2 linked regions of the Homo sapiens genome follow. The protein of the gene in region 1 interacts with the protein of each later gene in a pairwise test. Each region holds a gene or a part of one and is shown in the gene's direction. Other genes may lie near its edges.

The links.
Region 2: the proteins of NBPF19 (region 1) and MYPOP interact in a two-hybrid assay, tested with the Homo sapiens proteins (one large-scale study listed by BioGRID).

What each region holds. Positions count from the first base shown.
Region 1 is NC_000001.11:149,498,789-149,502,872, forward strand, and holds part of NBPF19 (NBPF family member NBPF19), read left to right. Parts: intron 1-284; coding exon 285-457; intron 458-1,166; coding exon 1,167-1,218; intron 1,219-1,868; coding exon 1,869-2,041; intron 2,042-2,755; coding exon 2,756-2,864; intron 2,865-3,497; coding exon 3,498-3,670; intron 3,671-4,084.
Region 2 is NC_000019.10:45,889,523-45,892,613, reverse strand, and holds the end of MYPOP (myb-related transcription factor, partner of profilin), read left to right. Parts: intron 1-334; coding exon of another isoform or gene 335-444; intron 445-1,290; coding exon 1,291-1,991; 3' UTR 1,992-2,591; downstream 2,592-3,091. UniProt on the Homo sapiens protein: Transcriptional repressor; DNA-binding protein that specifically recognizes the core sequence 5'-YAAC[GT]G-3'. Dimerization with PFN1 reduces its DNA-binding capacity.

The sequences.
Region 1 (4,084 bases):
AGAGTGTCCTTTGACCCCTTCATCAGTGTGTCACCCGGCCAACTCGCTGAGCTCACTTTCTCCTCTCTCTCTCTCTCTCTCTCTCCCTCTCCCTGTCTTTCTCTTTCATTCTTCTCTACCTGGCCCTGGTCTATCCCAACATAAAGGCAATAATTCATTACCTCATTAATGGATCTGTCCTTTTTCTTTTTAAACAGTTCCTTATGTTAGCCATGAAATCTAGCTGGGGCTGTGTGGTTTCTGATTCCCCCTGGCTTATTCTTTACTTTTTCCTACTTTTCCAGGCTCAGCAGGGAGCTGCTGGATGAGAAAGAGCCTGAAGTCTTGCAGGACTCACTGGATAGATGTTATTCGATTCCTTCAGGTTATCTTGAACTGCCTGACTTAGGCCAGCCCTACAGCAGTGCTGTTTACTCATTGGAGGAACAGTACCTTGGCTTGGCTCTTGACGTGGACAGTGAGTACCTTACTATGAAGGTGATAAGCCTCCACCTGGTCTTCCAGATAGGGGTGATATTCCTGTTCCAAGTGGCCCTTACTGACCCGAGAGATGTCATTGCCGCAGGCAGGACCTGTGGGCGCATATAGGTTGTAATGAAACTGTAGTCTCAGTTGGAAGCCTAGACATGAAATGGGTCAGTGAGCAAGGCTCTATTCCTAGTCTCCAGCCATGCCTGTGGCAACCTGAGCCCGCTCTCAGCACATTGGACCCAGGCAGATGCAAAAAATTCACAGAACTATGATTTGGACTCAAGGGTTTGTAGATTTCCTCCTTCATTCTAATTTCAGTGTCTAAAATTCTTGCATCCATGAACGAGCTGGGCATTTGATGAGACAGGGCTGAATACTGCAGTTTTCCTCCTAGAAATCATCTGGGGCATTTTCTTTGAACTGATGGGAACAATAAGGCATAACTGTTTGCACAAACTTGGGATAAGTGATTTTGGGATAACGATCTACCAGAATGGGGATATTTCACCCTTGGTTCTGAGATGCAAACCAAAGAATATCATGACCAGCTTTCAGGCCTCCTGAAGTATATCTCTCACATTGTCCTGTTCTCATGCTGAGGAGCCTGAGATCCCTGTGTGGGGATTAGACAGTGGACTGTTATGGGTGTAGGTGAATTGGCTTATTTTGTCTGTCCCTGTCTGAATGTATTGCAGGAATTAAAAAGGACCAAGAAGAGGAAGAAGACCAAGACCCACCATGCCCCAGGTAACTGAGCAATTGTGAACAGCTACTTCTGTGTTGACATCTGGAGACTCCTGGTTCAGGGAAAACAGAGCGGGCTGACATTATCGATTACATCTTTTCAAGCAAGCCTGAATTATTCCTACTAACATTGCTGTTGGTTTTCATTGCAGTAGATATTTAGGTTTCCATTTCTTCCTCCCCTTATCATTTACTAACCTACTGTAGGTGGACCAGACTTCAAAAACTGTATTCTCATGGCGACTGCATGGAAACTTGAGCACATTTTATGGAAAATTATTGAGCACAGTCTTTTCATGATCACTGTATGCTGTGTGTCCTGAGGGCACTAACTCAGAGTGTCCTGTTACTCCCTCATCAGTGTGTCACCTGGACAATTCACTGAGCTCGTTCTCTCTCTCTCTCTCTGTGTGTGTGTGTGTGTGTGTGTGCGTGTGTGTGTGTGTGTGTGTGTGTCCATCTGTCTTTCTCTTTCATTCTTTTCCATTTGGCCCTGTTCTGTCCCAACATGAAGGCAATAATTTGTTACCTCATTAATGGATCTATCCTTTTACTTTCTTAACCACTTCCCTATGCTACCCATGAAACCTAGTTGGGGCTCTGTTGTGTGTGATTTCCCCTGGCTTATTCTTTACTTTTTCCTCCTTTTCCAGGCTCAGCAGGGAGCTGGTGGAGGTAGTAGAGCCTGAAGTCTTGCAGGACTCACTGGATAGATGTTATTCAACTCCTTCCAGTTGTCTTGAACAGCCTGACTCCTGCCAGCCCTATGGAAGTTCCTTTTATGCATTGGAGGAAAAACATGTTGGCTTTTCTCTTGACGTGGGAGGTGAGTACCTTTCTATGAAGGTGATAAGCATCCACTGAGTCTTCCATATAAAGATCATATTCCTGCTCCAAGTGGCCATTACTGAGCTGAGAGATGTCGTTGCCGCAGTGAGGACCTATAGGCACATGTAGGTTGAATGAAACTCTAGTTCTACCTGGAAGCCCAGACAAGGGATGGGTCAGTGAGCAAGACTCTCTTCCTAGTCTCAGGCCATACCTGTGGCGCCCTGATCCTATTCTCATGACATTGGACCTGGGCAGATGTGACAAATTCAGAGAACTATGATTTTGACTCAAGGGTTTGTAGATTTCCTTTTTCACTCTAATTTCAGTGTCTAAAGTCCTCACAACCATGAACAATCTGAGTATTTGATGAGACAGGGCTAAATATTGCAGTTTTTCTCCTAGAAATCATTTGAGGGTATTTGCTTTAAATTGATTGGAAAAATATGGCATAACTGTTTGCACAAACTTGGGACAAATGATATTGGGATAACGATCTACTAGAATAGGGACATTTTACCCACAGTTTCTGGGAGAAAAACCGAGGAATTTCTATCATGACCAGCCTTCAGGCCTCCTGAAATATATCTCTCACAGTGTCCTATTCTTATGCTGAGGAGCCTGAGGTCCCTGTGTGAGGATTAGACAGTGGATTGTTATGTGTGTAGGGGAATCAGCTTAATGTGTCTGTCCATGTCTGAATTTATTGCAGAAATTGAAAAGAAGGGGAAGGGGAAGAAAAGAAGGGGAAGAAGATCAAAGAAGGAAAGAAGAAGGGGAAGAAAAGAAGGGGAAGAAGATCAAAACCCACCATGCCCCAGGTGACTTTCAGCAATTGTGGATGCTTAATTCTGTGTTAACACCTGGAGGCAACAGATTCAGGGAAACCAGAGTGTGTTTGATGTCATGTTTTCAACGAAGGCTGAATTACTCCTACTGTCATTGCTGTTGGTTTTCATTGCAGTAGATGTTTAGGTTTCCATTTCTTCCTCCCCTTATCATTTCCTAACGTACCATAGGTTGACCATACTTCAAAAGCTGTACTCTCATGGCCACTGCATCGAATTTTGAGCATATTTTATGGAAAACTATTGAGCTCACTCTTTTCATGATCACAGTTTGCTGTGTGTCATGAGGGCACTAACTCAGAGTGTCCTTTTACTCCCTTACCAGTATGTCACCTGGCCAATTCACTAGGTCACTTTCTCTCTGTCTCTGTCTCTGTCTCTCTCTCTGTCTCTGTCTCTCTCTCTCTCTCTCTCTGTCTTTCTCTTTCATTGTTTTCTACCTGGCCCTGTTCTATCCCAACATAAAGGCAATAATTTGTTACCTCATTAATGGATCTGTCCTTTTTCTTTTCAAACTCTTCCTTAACGTTAGCCATGAAATCTAGCTGGGGCTGTGCGGTTTCTGATTCCCCCTGGCTTATTCTTTACTTTTTCCCACTTTTCCAGGCTCAGCAGGGAGCTGCTGGATGAGAAAGGGCCTGAAGTCTTGCAGGACTCACTGGATAGATGTTATTCAACTCCTTCAGGTTGTCTTGAACTGACTGACTCATGCCAGCCCTACAGAAGTGCCTTTTACATATTGGAGCAACAGTGTGTTGGCTTGGCTGTTGACATGGATGGTGAGTACCTTTCTATGAAGGTGATAAGGATCCACTGAGTCTTCTGGTTAGGGTCATATTCCTACTGCAAGTGGCCCTTACTGAGCTGAGAGATGTCATTGCCACAGGGAGGACCTATAGGCACATGTAGGTTGAATGAAACTCTAGTTCCACTTGGCAGCCCAGACAAGGGATGGGTCAGTGAGCAAGGCTCTCTTCCTAGTCTCAGGCCATGCCTGTGGCGCCCTAATCCTACTCTCATGACACTGGACCTGGGCAGATGTGACAAATTCACGCAACTCTGATTTTGTCTCAATTTTGTAGATCTTGTAGATTTCATCCTTCACTCTAATTTCAGCGTCTAAAATCCTCGCTACCATGAACAATCTGAGTATTTGATGAGACAGGGCTGAATAGTGCAGTTTTTCTCCTAGC
Region 2 (3,091 bases), on another chromosome or scaffold:
GGAAGGAGCAGGGTGGGGGAGGATCAGAAGCCCAGCTCCGAGCAAGTGAGTTTGGGGCGTTTTTCGACAATTGAGAGTACACAGCTGGAGACAGGAGTCTGGAGCCCAGGCGAGAGGTTCAGGCTGAGCCCAGGAAGCTGGGAGCCCCTGTATGCAAACTGTTCAAGCCCATGAGCATGAATGAGACCCCAGGTGAGTACAGACTGAGGAAACCTACCAGGCTGGGGGCTGAACTGGAAAATCCTGCTGTCCTGGTTGGAGAGAGTCTCAGGGAAGTGTCCACCAGTGCCCAGACACCCCAGCTCTCTCCCAGACCTCTCTCTCACTTCCTCAGGATCCAGCAGTGTGGTGCAGTATCCATATAGTTCAGAACCTCGTCAAATGTTGGCCCTTGTCCGAGCGCAGTGGCTCACACCTGTAATCCCAGAACTTTGGGAGGCCGAGGTGGGTGGATTGCTTGAGGTCAGGAGTTTGAGACCAACCTGGCCAACATGGCAAAACCCCATCTCTACTAAAAATACAAAAATTTAGCCAGGCGGGGTGGCGCCTGCCTGTAATCCCAGCTACTTAGGAGGCTGAGGCAGGATAATCGTTTGAAGCCGGAAGACAGAGGTTGCAGTGAGCCGAGATCACGCCACTGCACTCCAGCCTAGGCTACAAAGTGAGACTTTGTCTCAAAAAAAATTAAAAAAATAAAAAAACTGTTGGCTCTTACTGTGAGTGAGATGGGAGCTGCCTGGCCTAGCAAGGGACTTCCAGGACCTGTTTCCACTAAAGCTGGCAGGACTTTTTCTCCTCCGGGTACAAAGACTGGCCTGCCATGGAGCTTCTCTTCCAAGGCATGATCTGACTTAGGTTTTAAAAGGATCATTCTGGGGCCAGGCGCGGTGGCTCACACCTGGAATCCCAGCACTTTGGGAGGCCAAGGCGGGCGGATCGCCTGAGGTCAGGAGTCCGAGACCAGCCTGGCCAACATGGTGAAACCCTGTCTCTTATTAAAAATAGAAAAAGTAGCCGGGTGTGGTGGCGGTCACCTGAAATCCCAGCTACTCGGGAGGCTGAGGCAGGATAATCGCTTGAACCCAGGAGGTGGAAGGTGCAGTGAGCCAAGATTGCACCACTGCACTACAGCCTGGGTGACAGACCAAGACTGTCTTGGGGCTGGGGGGCGGGGGTGAGAAGGATAGTTCTGGGTTCGGGTAGGGGGGAGGTGAGGGAAGGAGTGGGAAAGGGGAAATCAAGGCAGCATCGAGGGTCGCTCACCCCTTACCTGTATTTCTCTCTCTACAGATACATCAGCCCACAGCAAGGCGGGCTCCAGCAGCCCGGAGCCATGGGCCCGGCCCTCCTGCACTCCCCAGGAAGGGGGCTGCCCACGGCCCAAGGAGCGTGAGTCACCACCCCCTTCGGCCCTGCAGCCGGTCCAGCTGCCTCGCCTGGCCTTGTCTCCACCACCCCCAGCCCCTCCACTGCCACCCCCACCGCCACTGGCCCAAGTGGCACCCTCACCCCCTAGCCCCCCACCCCCTCCTCGGCCTCCACCCACGCTCTCGGCCTCAGACCCCTCCCTGGACTTCCTGCGGGCCCAGCAGGAGACTGCCAACGCCATCCGGGAGCTGGCCGGCACCCTTCGACAGGGACTGGCCAAACTGAGCGAGGCCCTCAGCGCTCTGCTGCCCCTTCTGCCAGGAACCCCAGTTGACTCCCTGCCTCCACCTCTGCCCCCACCCCCACCCCCACCGCCACCTCCCAGGCCTGTCCTGCCCCCACCGGCCCCCAAGGTGGAGATCACCCCAGAGCCCGTGTCCGTGGTGGCTGCTGTGGTGGACGGGGCAGTGGTGGCAGCCAGGGGAGTGATCATTGCCCCAAGGAGCGAGGAGGGGGCACCCCGGCCCCCCCCAGCCCCGCTCCCTCCGCACGACTCCCCCCCACACAAGCGGAGAAAAGGTTTCCCTACACGGAAAAGGCGCGGCCGATGGAAATCTCCGTGAAATCTACTATCTATGATCCTGCCTGCAACCCCTCTCCCCAGCTTGGCGCAGTCGAGGGGGGCGATGCTCTCTGCCCATCCCAGCTGCACCCTAGCTCCCTGCTCCAGGGATGTGAGCACCCACTCCCTGTGCTAGTTAGTGCCTGATTCTCTGGGGGGGGCCTCAGTAATGGGCCCCCCCAACCCCTTTCTCTGGTACAGTGCTGTCTGCCTGGCTGCCTCCCTTAACCCTGACTTCTAAGCCATCAATTTCATGTTATTTATTATTGCCCTATGTGGGGTGGGGAGGGAACCTCTCGGGTCTGCACATCTCCCCTTCCCTAACAGTTCCTGTTCTTGACTTGAAGAGAATTGACCCGTGGGGGACTCCCCACCTCCCCAACCCAGACTTTGGAGCGGGTGGGAGTTGTAAGACAAATCAAAATACGGATGACAAAGAGGATATAGCCGTGTATACCCCAGGGAGAGGAGGCGCCGAGTTCTGATGGGAGAGGTACAGGTTGGGTTCTCTGCCTACCATTGCTGTCTCTGACTTCCAGAGCTCAACCCCCTCCTTTCTCCCAGTGGTGACAAGATATCAATAAACTTATTTTTAATACAATTACTTGAGGCTCTGTCTGAGACAGGCCTGGGGGACCAGCACCTACACCTGCCCCGCCCCCTCCACAGGCAGGCAATTGGGAGGCTGGTGGTTTTCCAGCTTTTTTTTTTTTTTAATTCTTAAAGCCATCAAGTCTTGTGTTTACATGAAATCTTATTCCTACTCTTCCTTTAGATACCAGTCTAAATGTCAACTCCAGGAGAAAGTCCTAGATTCCTTCCCCAAGGCTAACGTGGGTTTGCCTCTTAGAGTCTCTTTCAGTGTCCTGTGGTTCTTTTTCTTTTTCTTTTCCTTTCTTTTCTTTTCTTTCCGTTTTTTTGAGATAGGATCTCGTTCTGTTGCCCCAGCTGGAGTGCAGTGGCATGATCACAACTCACTGTAGCCTCGATCTCCCAGGCTGAAGCAATCCTTCTGCCTCAGCCTCCCAAGTAGCTGGGACCACAGGCATGTGCCACCATGCTCAGCTAATTGTTTTATTTTTCTAGAGATGGGGTTTTCTA